3 linked regions of the Homo sapiens genome follow. The protein of the gene in region 1 purifies or fractionates together with the protein of each later gene. This does not show direct contact. Each region holds a gene or a part of one and is shown on either strand. Other genes may lie near its edges.

Region 1 (6,145 bases):
ACCTGGGGCTTTGAAAATATCAGAACAAGTAACTATTTTTATTTAGAGAAATAGCTCCTACTTCAGCTCTGAAGGACACCAGGTTACTGTGTTCCTGAGCTGATCTTTTAATGACTATTATCTATTTCTCTAGCTATAAACTTAGGTATAATCAACCGGATTGGACTCAAACAGGTCCAGATGGCATAAGTAAACTGTATAGTCAGGTTGCTCAAACTCTAGTGTGCCCACAACTGCCACACTGTTGTTCCTCTCTGCAGCTCTGACAATGTCCTCATGGAAAATGTTCTACAAACCACTGACTATAAATTAAAGATATTGGACAAGTTTATAAATGCCTTTTATGATCTGGCTGCTAGTGCCATCCAGAAGTGAACAGTTCTACAATTCTTCACTAAAATGTGATTGAAATTGTCATAAAAAATTAATGAAAACAAAATGTTACATACATGACACTATTAATAGGATTATGTAAATACTGGTGATGGAATAATGACAGAAAATATGGATTTTAATTTAATGAAAACAAATGTTACATGCAAAGACTCTTAAGATGATTATGTAAATACTGTTGAATGGAATGATGACGGAAAATACGGCTTTTGCCTTAAAGTGTAATTTATTGAAAAGAAAAAAGAAAATCTCTGTCACTGCACAAAACTATTTTAATTGATGGCACTTACAGAACTGGCAATTCAAAGACTTTTTAAACAAAATGTCCACTAGAAAACTTAGTAAACACTTTAATACCCTCTGATTAGGTGCCCTCCATATGGCAAGACACAACTGAAATTTAGACAATAAACTCTCTAGGAAAATTTAGCTTAAGAAAAAGAATGATATGCTATTAAGTAGATAACTCAAAAAGAACAATTTCCTTCAATATGGGATTTTACTATTCTAAAACAACAGTCCAGTCTTCAGATAAGATGGTTTTCCTTGAGAGGAGAAATTCAGAGAATGAAATTTTCAATCATATCTGTAAATAGAAATAGAAATATGTGGTGAGTTATATTAAATATTTTTGAAGAAAAGAAAAGCTCTTATGGTAGAACACGTTTTACTATTTTCTCTTCGTATTAGACAAGCTCACAATGTTATTTATGCTTTCCTGTTACTGACATACCTATCCATTGCTCTTGGTTTTTAAGCTACAAAGACATTTTTATTACTAAATTGTATTTTGTTTTGTGGTATTACTGAAGATATGGCAATGCAATTAGAATAAAAGGCTTTCACATAGGTTAAAATTTGGTCATTTTCCTTGGTTTAATGTATTAGAAGGGAAGTTTCCACCACTGGAAAAGGAAACACACACACACAAACACACAATTGGAAGCTCCAATGTAGTGGTGAAAATAATTGAACTTATAGACCTTTTTAAGTGGTGTTGACAGACTAACACTTTATTTATCTATGTGACTTGTTAAGGATGTCTATTTGACCATAAAAAATAAGATCAATGGTTAGATACATAATTTCCAAACTTACCAAGGGCCCTAACTGTGGAGTTCCTTGAGAATTTACTTAATTCTTCCGAAATAATGAAAATTGTTAAAATCATGTGATTAAAGGAAGTCATTAATAAAGATTTGCTAAATCAGGAAAAAATGGACTTTTACCTATTCAGTGTTTATTTTGCCCACAATATACTTAACAGAGATTACTATATTTGATCACCCTCAGGATTATAATAAATAAGGATTATTATAAAATTTCAAGTAAGCAAAAAGGTTAGGATTTGAATTTAGGACTACTGAACACCAAAATATGTGCTATATTACCTACCCAGTGTTTTTATACTTATCATAGGTATAACCAGAAGGAAGTCATTTAAAGATTAGTAAAAGCGCAAAAAGGATAATGTTGAATTACATGTCAGAAGTCTTTATATTTTTAACTTGAAAAGAAGTTATTTTCCAGGCTCATTAGAATAAATATCACTTATAGAATAGATAATACTGTTCCACATGTTACTAAGAAATTGATAATATTAGCCACAGGTCCCACAAAATATTATCAATTTTCCATTTCAGAACATATTAGTCCTTTGCAGTAGGCATTGATTTGCCATGTTTAATCTAAATCTGTTCTTATGGTATCCTCTCCAAGCTATTCTATTTCATTCCTTTGGTAGAACATCAAGATGTAGTAATTTAAATGAACTTACCACCACTGTAGCATGACGTTATTTTTTTCATAATTTTCATGAGCAGTGGGATTGGAGATGTCGGAAAACGGTGGGAAAGGAACATACTGCATGATTTGTGGATAGTACCAAACAGCATAGGGGTAGGCAGCAAGTTGGTTGAGCTGCTGGAAAGGCTAGAGGGAAAAACATTTGAAAAGCAACAGTGTATGAGCAATTGCTTTTTTCAGTCCCTGAAAAATATCAATACATCTCATTCATTTCCAAGATGCCTGTTAGCATGATAAAAAATGATTACTCTGTGAGGGAAAAGAATAAATCAAAATCTTCTATGGTGAACCATGTTGAAGAAACTTTCAGAAGGTGCTCTTTTAAGACACCTGAGGGGCAATGAATAAATCACTTTTTTTAAGGACATTATTTAAAACTGAACTCCAAGAACCCACATTACTCACAGGTCCACTTATCAGAGCCCAGAAGAGAGTAGTAGCATACATTTCATTATTATTTACGTTATAAACTCAAGGGAATTTTTGCCATTTAGATATATAATTTTCCTTAAAGCCACTGGGGTCAAAGTACAGGCCCCGCACCCAGGGTCAACATAGCTGTCTTTCAGAAATGCCAGGAACAGAAAAAAATAATAATTCTTTAATTCCTAGGCCACTGTTCTTTTCAAACACTAGAGTTTTGGGGCCAAAACTATTTTCCTTTCTATAATTTTGGAATAGTTGCTTCTGTTGATTCATAATGAGATTACACTTAATTTTTTCTGTGTACTAATAATTGCATTGTTCATAGAAACAGTTGCATATAATTCTCTACATATTCAGGTGGAAGTTCTTTGCTGGAATTAGGAAAATCTTTAAAAGCATTTAAAATGTTGCTGTGGACACCTGCCTATGTAAAGATTAAAACAAATATAAAATCTAGAATTTTTTAAGATAAAATAAGGTAACTACCTCAAGATAGAACTGGCCCTGTTCTTAATAGAGAGACCGAGAGAGAGAGAGAGAGAGACAGACAGACAGACAGAAATAAGTGTCTATGATTTGAATGTGTTTCCCAAAGATCATATGTTGGAAACTTAACATGCAATACAACAGTGATGAGAAGTGGGACTTTGAAGAACTGATTAGTTCACAAGGGCTCTGCTCTCACAAATTAATTAATGCTATTATCATAGGAGTGGGCTTACTGTTGCAAGGGTGAGTTTGTTTTGACTGAGTTTGACCCTCTCTTGTGTATTCTTTTTTGCTCTTCCACCATGGGATGATGAAACAAGAAGGCCCTAGCTTGACAGATGTTGGCCTCTCAATCTTGGACTTACAGCCTCCACAACTGTTAACCAAATAAATTTCTGTTCATTATAAATTACTTAGTCTGTGGTATTCCGCTATAGCAGCACAAAACAAACTAAGGCACTAGTTTAGTAATTTACATCCAACTGAACATGAGGATAGGGCAAATTATTGCTACTCCAAACCCTCATTAATATGAAAAATGCATATATAGTTGTCACACTTTTTTTAAAAATAATTACATTGAAGTAATAGGTCATGCCTGTAATCCCAGCACTTTGGGAGGCCAAGGCGAGTGGATCACTTGAGGTCAGGAGTTTGAGACCAACCTGGCCAACATGGTGAAAACCTGTCTCTACTAAAAATACAAAAATTAGCTGGGCATCGTGATGCTTGCCGGTAATCCCACCTACTTTGGGATGCTAAGGTATGAGCATCACTAGAACCCGGGAGGCAGAGGTTGCAGGGACCTGAGATTGTGCCACTGCACTCCAGCTCAGCAACAGTGTGAGAATCTGTCTAATAATAATAATAATAATAATAATAATAATAATAATAATATTCACATGGAAAATTAAGACCAAGTAATTCTTTGGGGCCCAAATGAAGAGAATACTTGCCTTTATTTTCTTTTTACTTTAGCCAGTGACAGTGATTACAGAATTTCAGAAAAAAAAAACTGAGGGTAAAATTTGATGTACTGTGAGGAACTAAAAGTTTCTTTCTCTAGTTGTGGAGGATGTTCCATGGCTTTCTTTACATGGTTTTTTTTTTTTTAATTAGCATGTTGTACATAAATTGAATCATTAATGGACAAGAGACACTGAATTAAACATACAGTTATTATCTTTAAATGTGAAGACACAATATGTCACTGTAAACATCAAGACATGGGAGTTTTGGAGGAGGAAATAAATTGATAGACACATATTGTTTTTCTCCACAAATGAGAAACCAAAGGTCCAAGAGAATACACAATGTGCTCAAGGTCATATGCTTAGAAGTTGTCAGAACTGAGATTTAAGTTGGGAGTGAGAAATGTTTGAGAAGAAAAAAATCTCTTCAAGAGTAGGGGGCTATTTAAGAGCAAACATATTTAAGCTTAACAAAATATTATCGTTTTGTAATATATTAAGCAAAATATTACCACTTGGACATGGCTGTTTTCATTCATTCTGCGAATTTGCTCCTGCATAAAAGGAAACACATTCTAAATTACTTAGACATCTTCTGGTACAACACATTTATCTTACATTGCACCAGAAGTATACATAACATCATTCATGAAATTTAGAATAGACTGTATTCTATGCCACAGTTAGCAAAAAATGTCAAAACACTTTTTATTTTCTAATGTCAGAAAAAAATTTTAGCTAAAGGCTAAGCTCACTATAGTTTGGAAAAATAAACAATTAGTAAGGTTCATACTCTGAGGAAAAATAATAACCTACCATTTCTCTAGGACTACATATTTTTCTATTTATGGCTATTTATTAATTATTTAAATTTTGTCTTTTGTGACTTTTAAGTAAAATATTATCAGATAGTGTTGGTAGAACACTCTCTCAGAATATATTTATGTTAAAAGAGAATCATGCATTATAAAAACATAACACATGAAGGAAATACTAAAATATTTTAGATTTAATAAATAATCTCACCTGGGCATGGGCAGCTTGCTAGGGAGGAGAAAACATTCTGTTTTAGTATTTTCATTTTATTTACTCATTAATAAGAAACATTTGCTGGGTACCTTCATTTGTTCAGGGACAATGTTAAATACTGGAGATACCACTGTAAAATACTACAAAATCTCTCAGGAGGACAAGTAGGTTCTAACAGTTGTGGAGGTTACAGACTAGCCATATCATATCTATGGTACTAAAATATATTATTCAGGTAATTTTCTAGATCAATAATGATGAATTCTATTGGGGTACTAATGTGTTTAAATTTATTTGGATACTATTTTAAACACAAGTTACCTGAAAATGGAAACTAGAGTAACAATTAGGGTCCATATTAAATTCATTACTGATTTTCATCTTCCTCTATTGATAACGATTAAAAATGCTAGCATGCAATTTTGCTGAACTAAAACCAAGCATTTCCCAAAGCCTTCATTACGTCAAATTTGTTTGTAGTTACTGAAAGGTTTTTATTGTCCTCCCAAAAGAAAGACTTTTATGTTACTCAAAAGGGTCAAAACCAGTGTTAAGCAGATTATGTGAGTTTTGACAGAAGCAAATCTGATGTTTAGCATTCCTGTTTCCTTTCCCAGAATCTATCCTGTTTCCTTAAATGGAAAGTTTATTTGACATATCTGTGATTTCACAGGTAAGCATATTTGTGAAATTCTCAACCAGGACATAATGTATCATCAGGGAGGTTAAAAGTGGATTTGCAGTAGAATGTAGTCACTTTCTCCCTGGTTAGTAAGTATGGATAATATATAGAACTTTAGTCCAGGAATAAAGAGAATGAGCATTGCCCGCAAATATGCCGGCAATCATACAAATAACTTGCCAATTATTGGTCAAGGCTAGAATAAATAATTTCTTAAGAAAAATAAAAATATATTTAGAAATGGCCCCAATTTAAAATTTAATATGTTTTAATTCTATAGTAGAATATGATTTTGTATTATAATGAATAAAATATTACCAGCTGAAGTTGGTTGTATTCGTTCAGTCTA
Region 2 (7,000 bases), on another chromosome or scaffold:
AGGGTATCAGGTAATAAAAGACTACACTATCTTAGTGAATAATGTGTCACTTTAAAGTGGGAGTAGAAGAGCTGTTGAATGTGAGTAGCATAGGCACAGGAGGAGAAAAGGCATATCTTTGGTTATACGTAGGAGGGGATTCCAATGTGGCTGGCACTGGATCCTGACAGACAGCTGATTCTGCTCTGTAGTGGGCGAGAGTATATGGTGAAACATGGATTGGAGTTCATTTATAATCCAAAGGATTAGTTTAGACTTCTCTATTAGAATCTGTTAGAATTTCTTTCTTTGGGCTTCCCTGAAAGAAACTTAGAAAAGGATGAAGCAAGTCACGGGAGGAAGATTCAGTGATACTGACCTATCTATTCCGGAACTGTGTCTGTGAGCTCAGGTTGTCCATAGCCTGCTGCAATATGTCTAAAGATTGATCACTATAAGTTTTCTCAGGTTCTTTTTTCCCCTTGTCGGTCTTACATTTCATAGTCCTTTAGCCCTCAAGGGGCTAGAAGGCAGTTTATGACCTCTGCTACTGCATAGATGTAAGACTAAAGGTTCCAGATAATTGAAGTTCTCCTGACCTGAAATGTAAACTCTGTACAGTGGCTTTGCTGTATTCTTTCACATCCCTTTGAGTCTTTGAAGGTGAGGCGGGCCACACTAGCTGCTGTTTTCCAGATCAGGGCATGCCATTGTTTGACCTGCCACCATAAAACAGTTGTACATTCCTTTGTCTGTCTTTTGAGCTTAGGCCTCCAGACTAACCACATCAGGTCTCCCTAGTGATTTGTCTGCCCCCACCTGGGCAAGACCAAAAAGAAAAACTAAGCAGTTAGTGACATGCAGTGCAACCGGACGGAAATGGACTGTAGAATCGAAATTGTAGAGAGATGGAGAAGAAAATGTTTGGGGCTAGGATAAGTGTTCAGAATCTTAAAGTGAAGTTGTCTTTGTAAACCTCTAGGCAAAAACGAGCTGAGTTGAAAATTGAGTAAGAAAATTAAGCTGTTAGGTCTCCTAGATCTACCTGGAGGGCCAGGCTGCGAAAGATTGGTAGTGATTTTTGTAAGTAATACTCAGAGCAAGAATTGTTGGTCTCAGTGGCTACCTAAGTGTATTGAAAGCTGTCAGTAGCTACAAGACGAATGGACATGTATTCCTGTTTTTACAGATACTATTACAACAAGAGGATCCTTCATAAAACAAAAGGGAAAAGATTTACCTATAAATTTAACTTCAACAAGCTGGTGATGCCCAACTACCCATTCATCAACATTCGGTCAAGTGGTAAGATACAAACTCTTTTGGTAGGGAATTAATTTTGAATTGAAAAGAATTTTTAAAAATCCAAATCTAAGACATGGCATGTTTAGGAAGATTTTAGAAACACTAAAATAATGTGATCCTTTGGATTGCCTCAATGTTCTTACTCAAGTCATCTCACTTATAAGGAGAGTTATAGGCTATTCAGTATCAAGATAGATTTCTTTGGTTTATTTGGTTGGTTCCCTTTTCTGCATATTGTTTGTAATCTCCTAGATACTATTACGCTATCTTGTTTGGGAATGATGTTTCATAGGTTTGTGATGATCTTTACGTTCAGGACTCAGTTTTAACACCCAGCCCAGTGGTTCTTTCATAGATGGGAACCTGTTTCTACAAACACTTCCGATTTTCTGTGAAACTACCAAGCTCTCCCTTATCAAGTGAATATCATCAAAACCACAGCATCCTTGATCAGAGAAGGGGGAGGTTCACATGTTTGCAGTGAAAAGCAGTGTCTTTGATCTGCAACAGCAAATCCTCAGAGAAAAAGATTCTGGGGTTACTTGACCTTCTCTCCTGTTAAGTGCAGTAGGGCTTCCCCTCTTGACTTTCCTGGTTATAGCTTTCCATCACAGCTCCCCACATTCTCTCTTGATGTTGAAAGCAGTCTCTCAAAAGACTTTGTTGTTGTGTGGTTTTTTGTTTGTGATTTTTTTCCTTATGCAAATCATACTCCTGCCCAAGAAAATACAGTAGTTCCCCTTATCTGAGCAGTATATGTTCTAAGACCCCTAGTAGATTCGCAAACCACAGATAGTACCAAACTCCATTCATATATATGATGTTTTTTCTTCCCTTAACCCCACTCATATGTATCTGTGATAACGTTTAATTTATAAATTAGGCACAGTAAGAGATTAATGACAATAATAAAATAGAAAAATTATAACAATATGCTGTAATAAACTTAATGTGGTCTTTCTCAAAATATCTTTGTGTACTGTACAGACCTATTTTCAGACCTTTGTGGGTAACTAAAACAGTGGAAAGCAAAACCTCAGATAAGAAAGGACTACTGTAGATTGTATTTAACTGTTTTCTGACCAGTCCATCAGTAAGTACTCTGTCATTGTGGCCTTGTATGCTAAGGCAAAGAATGCTGATCATGCAGTAATACAACTTCTCAGAAAAGCTGGAAGAAACCTGAAAAATTAGTGGGGGTGTGGTTGAGAGAACATAATGTTGAGATCCATTGCAGATATGTAATTACTACACAACAAGTTAGGGCAGTTTTAGCTTGACTCTGCTATCATTACAGTTTCATCTCAACTTCTGTAACCACTCCCTCCTGTCCCTGGGGCATGCATTTAAAAAAAAAAAAAAAAGTGGTATTGGAATGCATCTCTCTAATTACAACCTGTTTTCTTTCCTTGTGCCTGAGGGAGAGGCGTTAGGAAATCAGACCTGTACTCGCCACTCAAATCTTGCTTCCTCTGTTTCTCACTCTTGCCCCTTCCTTGTATGCCTAGAGGAATTGGGAATCTAGATGTATATACCAACAATTTTAAAGAATTTGTTGGTTTTCATACCCCTTCACCCCACTCCCAAAAAAATGTTTCATTCGTCTTGTTCTTCTGTCTTTGACCCATTTTTATCTATTGAAAATCCAGAACTTCAGCCACTTGGACAACCTAGAATGGGGCATTCATAAGCCCTGGGAAGTAATGTGGTTTTCCAGGGCAAGGAAACCTGGATCCTCACTCTGTGAAGAATCTGATCTAGAAACCTAACAATAGTGGCCCAGCACACCTGTTCTGCCCGAAGGCGATTGAACCAACATTGATCTTTAACCCAAGCTCAAGATCCTAATCAAAAAGCCACAAGGGGCCGGGCCAGGTGGCTCATGCCTATAATCCCAACACTTTGGGAGGCCAAGGCCGGCAGATCACTTGAGGTCAGGAGTTCAAGACCAGCCTGGCCAACATGGGGAAACCCCCATGTCTACTAAAAGTACAGGTGGCAGTCACCTGTAGTCCTAGCTACTCAGGAGGCCAAGGCAGGAGAATCACTTGAACCTGGGAGGCAGAGGTCGCAGTGAGCTGAGATCATGCCACTACACTCCAGCCTGGGCGACAGCGAGACTCAGTCTCAATAAAGCACAAGGAAAGCAAAACTGTGTACATTTCTTTTAGTACATCTATCTCTACTACCTGGTTGCTCACATCCTAGGTATAGACAACTGCAAAGAACTGGTGTCATTAGTTTTTAAAGAACTTTTGACCAGAGAGGCCAAATGTTGTTTAAGGTAACTTTATGATAACAAAGGAATGTAACATTTATTGAACATCTGCTTTATGGAGGTACTTTTGCTTAGTAGTTTTGTGAATTACGTTATTCAACTTTTCAGCCCAGTGAAGTGAATGTCTTGATATCCACATTTTACAAATGATAAAATTAGGAAAACGACAGCAAAGTTAAAGACTGATCAGGGTAGGTTGAATAGTTATCTATTGAACAGTTTCTAGGGAAACAATTCCTGAGAGATCGAGCTGTTGAAGTCTAGCCCTTATTTAATAGATCATACATTCCTCCTCTAGGTTGTGATTCATTTGTTCAACAGATAATGGGAGTTCTTTACCTCACGGAACTTACAGTTTAGCAGGAGAGATAAGATATGCCGGGTTTAATACAATGTGAAATGTGATAAGTACTCTAAATAGAGCTGTGTGGATTTAGATCCTGGAGGCCATTGAGATCATGTCCACAAGGTGGGTTGAGACAGTTGGGGTATTCTGGTCTGTGTATTTTATCATGAAAAGCATCCTGTATAACACATTATTAAAATATTTTCTTATATTTGCATAAGAAACATTGGAAAGATACAGAAGATACTGTCAGGATGGGGCAGGACAGACCAGTTCAGGGATGGACTTGATACCGCTCAGTCTATGCCTCTCTACTCCCACCAACCCCAGTTTTTTAATTTTTATTTGGGAAAACTCGAAACCTACAGGAATACTGGAAGAAGGACAGTAAACACCCATATATCCTTTATCTAGATTCACTAATGGTTAATATTGTAGCCACATTTGCTTTATCTCTTTCTATTTATATATACTTTTTAAATCTTTTGAGATTAAGTTGCAGACATCATGACATTTCGTCCCTGTGTACTTCAGCTTGTATTTCCCAGGAACAAGGACATTCTCCTCCATAACCACAATAACATTACCACACCCAGGATGTTTAACATTGATATAATTCTGTTATCTAATACATAGTCCGTATTCGAATGACAGTTGTCTTTTTAGGGTTTAAATTTTGTACCATGATTAATAAAAAAATTATTTAACAATGACATGCAATTTGCTATGCTTGGTACTATTCTAAGGGCTTTACAAATATTAACTGTTAATCGTCATAACAATAGGCCCTGTGCTGACCTATTTTACAGGTAAGGAAACTGAGGCACAGAGAGGCAAGCTGTCCAGAGGCACATAACTAGTAAGTGGTAGGACCAAGATTGGAACCTAGGCAAGGACCTTATGAATTCCATTTTGCCAGAGGGGGTCAAAGATTCCAGTGTGCTACTTGTACTAGGCTACAAGGTGGAAGCTGCCAGAACTGAGATTCAGACCCAGTTTTTTCAACCCCAGTACTTGAATTTCATGGTGACTTCATGGAGGTGGACTTCTAAAGCAATGGTATTCAAACTTTCTTTTTTAGCAGCAAACTTTTTTTCTAAGCAAAATCTTAGGTTTGATATCTCAACATATAAAAGTAGGGCTACTTCAGTTAATCAGAGATAAGGGTTCCAGAATGCTAGAAGCAATGCTTCCCAGTATTGCTTCTAGTCTCACCTCCCATTACTCCACCTAAATACATCAGGAAAATACTGCTTATTATGTCTCCTTTACAGTATACCTTAACGTATGTAAAGACTGAGATATCCTCCAGTTTATTTTTCTTTTTTAATAAAAAACTAGATTTTGGGCCGGCACAGTGGCTCACGCCTGTAATCCCAGCACTTTGGGAGGCGGAGGTGGGCGGATCACGAGGTCAGGTGTTCAAGACCAGCCTGACCAATATGGTGAAACCCTGTCTCTACTAAAAATACAAAAATCAGCCAGTCATGGTGGTGCGCACCTGTAGTCCCAGCTACTTGAGAGGCTGAGGCAGAAGAATTGCTTGAACCTGGGAGGCGGAGGTTGCAGTGAGCTGAGATGGTGCCACTGCACTCCAGCCTGGGCGACAGCAAGATTCTGTCTCCAAAAAAAAAACAAAACAAAACTAGATTTAACCAAGCATTTCTAAGTTGCTTAGGAGACAAGACCTTTCCCTGCACATTATACTTCCTTCTTCTGAATACATAGAAGTGGCTTTTTGCTTTTGAGTAGATGTACTCTTAATTGAAAGTCAAGATCCAAAAGAATCAAAAAGGGTAGAATTGTAGCCACTGTAATAAGCTAGTAGAAGAATACATTTGGCCTGGGACCCTCTTGGCTCTACTCAAATCATTTGCAAGGTCATCCATCTGTTCTTCCTAATTTTAAAATTAAATCAGTGGCTTTATTTTTTTTCCAGTCTGTGATTTTGTTTTTAATTATCTTAAGTCTTATAATCATGCATAATTTTTAAATTTGTTTATATTTCCTCTACTTAATTCCTTTTAAATTGGCAAAAGCACCATTTCCAATCACAAATACACAGCAGTTCTACAGTGTTATGTTTCTGAATGGCTGTTTAGAGGCAATCCCAAATTATAACTTAGTCTGAATTAGATGGTAAAGAATTCAAGAGTGAAGTTTAACTTGCTACTATTTTTAAAGCATCTGATCCTATAGATCACCTATAAAATGTGAGAAGTGTTAAATCTTTATTTGATATTACACATAAACCCACTAAAATGCCTTTCAATAAGTAAAAGAAATCACTTTAGATACAGATTTCTAATTAAATTGGCTATTATTGTTAAAACCAAAAATATAAAGTAGACATTGCTGCCTTATCTTCAGCCCTTGCCTTTAAGAGGCAAATGAACATAAAACACTGGTGAATCTTGCTTGGTTCTAAGACAGTGAAGGACTTTCCCCAGTATTTAAATATATTCACATAACTAGTTATGTAAATCTAAATATAAAACCATTCTCCATTAAGTTTTAAGATGGCATTCATCATCTTTGTGAAAAGTTGAACATTACTAATGAAGTCCAGTCATATATTTAGAAGGGGTAAACAGTGATAGATAGCATTTACTAAATCGGAATTACCGTTAAAATTCCAAAAGCCAAACATATTCATCTAATCTCAAGTCAGTCTTAATTAAATCAGGACTGCCCAACAAAAATCTGTCAGTCATTCATGATCTGGATTCTGGTTTATGAGATCTGTTAAATTATGGTACACATAAAAAAGTCATGAGGCATTTCTGTTTTGCAATAAATAAGGCAGTGTCCAATTATTATCCATTAGTAGCTTTTTTGAGATAATCTATCAAGTCTGCCCTTTTCTGCCTTAATGTCGGCAAAGATCATTTTTGTTCCAAGGATGTACTTCTTGGGATTCTCCAAATACTCCATCGGTATCCTCTCCCCAGGTAATGCCTTTGTTCTTATTGGCATCTGTGTAAGAGAATCCAGTGGCCTGACCTGTCTTCCACCCAAAGAGACATGGAGATTAGGCCCAGTCTCGTGCTTGCCTCCCTTTTCCACAGTGTGGCACTGGGCACACTTCTGAA
Region 3 (7,000 bases), on another chromosome or scaffold:
CTTGTTGGGGTCATAAAGCTTACTTCTTTTGCTTTTTGTCTTACTTCTTACCTATGTTTCACAGTTTAGAAAGAACATTTCTTACTAAGACAAAAACTGTATTGTACAGACACTTGGACCTTGCTGACATGAGTCACGTTTTACAACAAAATGCACATGCCTTAGAAATCTGGCACATAAGGGCTTCCAAGACCATCAAGCAGTTGTTCTCAAACTTCAGTGTGCTAAAGACTGACTGAGGTGCTTATTTAAAATGCAAATTTGGGGGCCCCAACCAGAGATTCTGATTCAATGGGTACTCAATATATTATCTTGCTAGAGGTTAATTTAAAAATTTGAATATTCAATTGCAACTCTTTACTTCATTTTAGAGTCTTGGCATTGCATATACAGCAAATAAACATTTATTAATTTTATACTTCTCTGCACATACAACAAATCAACATTTATTAATGTTATACTTCTCTGCTATAAACAGGGTATGCATCCCTGGATGGCAGAGAGTCCTTCAGTAAGCTCTGCCCTGGGTCAACAGACATTTATTCCCATTTCACAGATGGACAGAGGACAGAGAGGAAAAGATCACCTGCTTCAGGTGACACACAAGGTAAGAACTGGCATGGAAGCTGACACCTATGTCTCTTACATTTCCTACATCAGAAACAGATGTAACATCAACCAGCCCTGGTTATCTGCGCTGTAAAGTAGAGTTCACACCAAGGAAAAGGAGACACTGACTTAAAGAAAAGAAATATTCTTTCCCTGTTTTTTTTGTTTTAAACATAAGACAATTTAAAGAAAGGGAGGAGTGCAAATTAAAGATTTCCTCGATCAAATTTTAACCAACTATGTATTTGTGAACCCATTTATTCAGGGACACACAGTGTTTAAAATACTCCTCTAAGGAAACAATTCCAGCCTGGGTCTAGGCAGCTTTCTAGGGTTTTGCTTGGGCAAACAGTGTTATTTCCAAAGTGTCCTGTAACCTGCTGAGTTTAGGAGAAGGAGAGGAAATTCAGAGCTCCCTTGATCCAGGAGCCAGAAGATTAATGTTTCGGGGGTCGGCAGGGGGTTGCTGTGACGGGTGTGAGTGGCACCACACCGGACAAATGCCCCCATGTTTTGGTCATCACACAAACCAGTTCTTGTCAAATTCCTCCCCAGAAAGTTTCCTGTGGCTCCAGGCCATGGGGCTGGGATAGTGCAGATTTTAAATCATGGAAACTTCAAGAACATACCTACTCTTCCTCTCTCCTCTCTGTCCAAGGAGCCCCCATCTGAGTACAGACTGACCATCACCCACCTGCAATAAACTACATCTCTGAGCAAAACACCAGCTGGGCTGGCAGGCCAGAAGGCAGCTTCCCCAGGTCACTACCCGCCAGGAAGCACCCAGCGACCCACGCACCACTCACTTTGTCGCCCCTCCGCTGCCCTCGTCGTTGTCGGAAGATGACGATGTAGAAGAGCCAGGGAAGTAGGCGGAATCCACGTGGTTGGGGCTGCCGCTCTGGGCCGGGTTGATGGGCGAGGACCGCTCATACAGCGGCGTGTGCTTCCCTTCGTGAGGAATGTTGCTGTAGCTGTTCTGCTCCGTCAGATTCTTCCCGCTCGTGTCCAAAGTGAGAGGTGCTGGCTCAGAGAGGCTGTACGGGTATGGACCCTGGCCCGGGGCGCCCCCTGGGCTGGGCACCTGTGGGGCCTGAAGCGAAGGGCACAGGTCACGCACACGTGGCCAGCAGGACCCGACTCAGGCCCAGGCTGACGTTTCCTGGCTCATTTTTATTTCAACAAACACTGGCATCTATTTCACGTATCAATTCAAGAGGTTAGGAACTTATTTTAGCATTCGTTGAAATTCAATGCACGCACCCTGTCTGAGACCCGCCACCCGACCCAACGCAGGGAAGGCCTTACCACGGGCTTTGCTTGCAGAGAGGTCTGCGGAATGTTGAGCATCTGAGGAGGAACATGCGGCGGCACCATCCCAGGCATTCCAAACGGACCGGGTCTGGCTGCTTCACCAACACAGAAAGAAAAGAATCACACAGCTGTGAACAGAATGCGTTTTCCAGGGCATCCTGGGGGCCAGCCCATGGCGCCAGGGATCTCACCCTCACCTGGCTCAGACATCGACACCACCATGGGTCCCACTTCTCAGAAATCATTACAAATTGCCATTTCACAGTAAGGAAAACTTAATTTTATGATGCTCCATTTGATGGACTCGGGCTGGGATTCTAACTTTCCAGATTTCTCAGTGAACTTGCCATAGTGGTTCTGCTCTCGTGTACTTCCTGAGGGCCTCGGCTGTCCCTCTGCCTGCAACTTGGTGGGGATTCTCTGTAACTCAGTCTCCCTGCTCAGGGCTGCTCCTAGCCTGAGGTCTCCGTGAAACCAGAAGCCCTGGCAGGCATGAAAGGAACAAAGTCGGACCGAACAGTTTCCTTTACCTTTGTCAAGCAAGAGGACTTTTCTATTTAAAGTACATTGCAACTACCATTAGGTTCTCAGCTAACTAGTGAGTTTTTAAATATAAAAGGAATTGCTTTTCATTGTTCAGCAATTAGGTTACACATTTTAACACATATACAGGATGAGTAATTTGTGATTCTGTGTTCTCTTAAAACATAATTTCATAAACCTGCCTGATGTGTGCTGCCATGTGCTAGTCATCATTCCCACGCTACCTTGCAAAAATGAAGAAATCTGTGAGAGGACTGAAAGCCACATAGAGGAATGGCTGAAGCAGGACAGCAGGACATGGAACCAGGCCAGCCTGAAGCTGGGACAGAAGGCAGGGGCTGGAAGCCTCCCCACTCAACCTCTGGCCTCGCGCGGCCTAACTAAGCACAGGAAGAGAGCTCAGGGGCCACGTCAGCCAACAGAAGTGAATGAGTGAGTAGATGGTGCCCATAAAGGGCTGTTCCAGAGACAGCACAAGACCCGCAGTAACAAGGACCGACTGGGGCCCAAATGATATGCAGGAAGCAGGAGGACATGGGACATGGACCTCTAGGAGCTGCACTCCCTCTCAGAACACTTAGGTGCTGAGGGCCTATGATGTGTCAAGCTGAGGACTGGGCCTGGGGATGAAAGGAGCCCTGAGGCGGTTTAAGTAAGATGCACACTGCTGAAGACACAGAGAAAATAGAAAACCTGTGTGAGACACAACAGATCCACCAGGGGCTTGCACGGCTGCACCATCTCTTCCTTGGGTTTGTTTTAAATGTGGAAGAAAACCAAGCCCAGAGCTTGCTGACTCCAATTTCCCTCTTTAAGCAGTAGATATGCTTCTACAACCTCTTCATCTGAACACCAGTTGATATGGTTAGGCTGCACATCCCCACCCAAATCTCATCTTGAATTATAATCCCCATAATCCCCACGTGTCTAGGCAGAGAGACTAGGTGGAGGTAATTGGATCATAGGGGCAGTTTCTCCCATGTTCTTCTAATGATAGTGAATGAGTTCTCACAAGATCTGATGGTTGTATAAGGGGCTCTTCCCCCTTCACTCGACACTTCTTACCGCTGCCTTGTTAAGAAGGTGCCTTGCTTCCCCTTCAACTTCTGCCATGATGCTAAGTTTCCTGAGGCCTCCCCAGCCATGCTGAACTGTGAGTCAATTAAACCTCTTTCCTTCATAAATTATCCAGTCTCAGGCAGTTCTTTATAGCAGTATGAAATCAGAGGAAAACACCAGGCAAGGGGAACACAACCCAAGAACCACCACCTCTCACACTGCCTACTGCCAATATAGGTAAGGACAGAAACATTCCCCAAACCTTCACTCTCGTTCTCTGAAAAGCAAATGTCCATGGCTGCATTCACAAGAGGTTCCCTAAGCCAACACTGGGCGTGGTGAGACCAGGAGTGCAAACGCTGTCCTTGGTCCGGCCTCCTGAGAGCCAAGCATGGTCAACAGACGCTGGGAGTGAAGCACAGATCATTGTTGACTCCCCCCAGAGAACGACCAGGAATCTTACAGACTACAATTTATCTGAGGTTCCTGCCTTCCAAGGGCCTTCAGCTCGCAAGCTTTAAACACCATAGCCCTTCGATCCTGGCTCGCATCAAGAAAAAACCTTGGCAGAGCTTCCACCTTTGTACCAAACAAAAACAACTGCAGTATGAGAAGCTGGGAATAATGAGACTGGCATGTGTGTAGTCACAGACACCTCACACTTGCATGCAACACGCACATAGACACACGTGCACACAACACATTCCTAACTGACCGATAAGTCCACAAGTCCGTGCCTCTAAGGGATGTGTGTGCATGATCAAGTGGTCACTCACACACAGGCGTAGATACACACAGAAGTGCACACAAACACACCCCACACGTGCATGCATGGCGCACACACACGCATGGCACAGACAATACAAGGAGCTGTTCCTAAAACAGTATGTTGGCTAGATCTGCACCTCCACGTGTGCGATCAAAGTCGCTATTATTTTAAAAAACTGTTCACAGGTGATTCTGATAGGCAGGTTTGGTCCAAAGAATATTATAAAATCTATTCAAGCTCCAACCATATAATTTAAATCAATGTAAAATGTCTAGTGTATAATATCTTGTGGCTGACCTCACTTACCTAACTTTGGAATAATACAAATCTAAGGCTAGACTCATGTAGCACCCGCATTCAAGTGAAGATGATCATTTTTGTTTTTTGATTTTTGGCCATTTCATCCTAAAACCTTCCTTGAAAGCACAAACTTTCCTTTAAAGCAAACAAACAAACTACATTACAGCATAAAACCAAAGAATTCCAAGGAAAGAATATTTTCTAAAATCACATTCCAATCATTGACCTCAAATAATCCTCTGTGAATCCACAGAGCAAGCCACTATTCTATTAAAGCAGTCCAATAAGTGAATTAATTTGTCTGCATTTTCTGAAGGCTGCAGAAGTGCCTCCTAACCCAGGGTCTCCCTCTGCGGATTCAGGCCTTCGTCTATATCGGTTCTTGTTCTCCATGCCCAAGTGCAGCTGAGCAGAACCACTGTGTGTCCTCTCTACAACAAGAGGCATCTTTCTCAGAAGGGACACGGGGCTCCAGAGTAGAGGTCACACCACCAGTTTCTCACTCTCTTCCTTTCACACTTACTAGAGAGGTGGGCTTTCGGTAAAAAAAAAAATATGCAGACTGAAGACAAGAAGCAAAAGAAGAAAAAAAGGCCAAAAAAGTTTACTATATTTCAAAATATTTCGTAACTTTAAAAATAGTTTTTAAATAGTGAGAAGTTCTTTCAGAATGAAAAGAGACATGCACTGCAATCCCTCGGCTGTATGATCTTGACTTGTTACAGCTCAGTCACCTACTTCCTCAAAGGACTCACTTACGCCTATATGCAGCTGTGTGGCTTTTGCTCTGAATTAAAATACGGTAAAATTCTTTAAAGAAATGGTGTTAAACTGGAACCTCTTCTTAGAACTACAGTCGGCCTTACCCCAGTCCCCATTCCTAGCCCAACCTAACAAATGTTCCTCTATTACTTGGCATATGATCCTGAAATGTTAAACAAAACAAAGAGTAACAAAGTTAAGTCTTAAAAAACAAAAAACAAAACAAAACAAAAAACTGGCCTGGTTCAGTGGCTCATGCCTGTAATCCCACCACTTTGGGAGGCCAAGGCAGGCGAATCACTTGAGGTCAGGAGTTCAAGATCAGCCTGACCAACATGGCGAAAGCCCGTCTCTACTAAAAATAAAAAAATTAGCCAGGCATGGTGGCAGGCGCCTATAACCCCAGCTACTCGGGAGGCAGAGGCTGAAAATCGCTTGAACCCTGGAGGCAGAGGCTGTAATCAGCAGAGATCGTGCCACTGCACTCTGGCCTGGGTGACAGAATGAGACTCCATCTCATAAATAAATAAATAAACAGGCAGACATTGTATGATTTTCAAGTATCACCCAAAAAATATAGCTTTGAAGATGTCGAGTCCAAGATTAAACAAATCAATATAATCCCTACCACCTTTAATTTTCATCGCTTGCAAACACAGACAAGGCAAAACATTCCAACCATTTTAAGCATGTGCAAACAGACATGTTTACTAAATCTCAATAGTCTACAGAAGATAAAAAGTTATAGAAAGGAAACTGTCATGTGACCTGTTCCCGTTACACTACAGATCCAGTGTCCAGAGAGGCAGGGTGGGGCCTTGGAGCACAGTGGGAGGGCGCGGCGTCTGGCCATCCTATAGGGAGAGGAGGCCCCACAGAGCCGGTCAGGCTGGCCAAGCCTGGACTGAGACCAGGTGCAATGTCAGTGCCCAGGGAGGCAAAGGATGGAGGAGCAACTCCCAAGAGCTAAGAGCCTGGGAGCAGCTGATGCTGGCCCAAAGCCTGCGGTGTTGGCCAGACCCCAAGGGAAGAGCCAGAGGCCGGCGCCCAGAAGAGGAGGCCTGGTGACAGAAGGAGGCAAAACCTGAGGCATGATCAGCTTGAAGAAGGCTAAGTACAAGGCCCATGAGAAGTAAGATTATGAACTCAGTGAACAGGCACATCCTGCGTGGCACGTGAAAGAATTCGGAACAGCGGGAAAAATTAAACCACGGAAGCAAATTTCAAGTCAACAGAAACAAGAACTTTCTAAGAATGAGAGCAGTTCAACAATGAAAAGGGTTGCTTTACTGACTGCTGGACTGCTCATACAAGAACATTCTACAGCAGGGAGCTGGGCTGAACTTCTATAAACATTCCTCACTCCCCAAATCCTTTCCATCCCTGAATGTGGATAGTGAGAGGGTAGACATCACGAGATACGGCATCATTCGAATCTACCCAGTGCCCCAGTCTCAAGTAGCAAGTTTTATCTAAATGTATTCAGTTCCTGGGTTTAATTAATCAGTTTGAACAGAATACTTGTACTGACTGAGCAAAGTTCAAGAAGGCAGAATAGGAACATTACATCTCATCAAGGCTGGTTACGGTGGCTCATGACTACAATCCCGACACTGGGGGCTGAGGCAGTTCAGACCAGGCCAG

What was found. The genes of interacting proteins can lie anywhere in the genome.
Region 2: the proteins of CSN1S1 (region 1) and ETV3 purify together in Homo sapiens (affinity purification with mass spectrometry; 2 studies listed by BioGRID and IntAct, with this or other methods). This does not show direct contact.
Region 3: the proteins of CSN1S1 (region 1) and FAM120A purify together in Homo sapiens (affinity purification with mass spectrometry; 2 studies listed by BioGRID and IntAct, with this or other methods). This does not show direct contact.

What each region holds. Positions count from the first base shown.
Region 1 is NC_000004.12:69,941,030-69,947,174, reverse strand, and holds the end of CSN1S1 (alpha-S1-casein isoform 1 precursor), read right to left. Parts: coding exon 6,115-6,145; intron 5,130-6,114; coding exon 5,112-5,129; intron 4,640-5,111; coding exon 4,598-4,639; intron 2,326-4,597; coding exon 2,171-2,325; intron 980-2,170; coding exon 979-979; 3' UTR 601-978; downstream 1-600. UniProt on the Homo sapiens protein: Important role in the capacity of milk to transport calcium phosphate. Casoxin D acts as opioid antagonist and has vasorelaxing activity mediated by bradykinin B1 receptors.
Region 2 is NC_000001.11:157,128,396-157,135,395, reverse strand, and holds part of ETV3 (ETS translocation variant 3), read left to right. Parts: intron 1-1,168; coding exon 1,169-1,284; coding exon of another isoform or gene 1,285-1,316; exon of another isoform or gene 1,317-2,251; intron 2,252-6,724; exon of another isoform or gene 6,725-7,000. UniProt on the Homo sapiens protein: Transcriptional repressor that contribute to growth arrest during terminal macrophage differentiation by repressing target genes involved in Ras-dependent proliferation. Represses MMP1 promoter activity.
Region 3 is NC_000009.12:93,510,685-93,517,684, reverse strand, and holds part of FAM120A (constitutive coactivator of PPAR-gamma-like protein 1), read right to left. Parts: intron 2,019-7,000; coding exon 1,918-2,018; intron 1,703-1,917; coding exon 1,416-1,702; intron 1-1,415. UniProt on the Homo sapiens protein: Component of the oxidative stress-induced survival signaling. May regulate the activation of SRC family protein kinases. May act as a scaffolding protein enabling SRC family protein kinases to phosphorylate and activate PI3-kinase.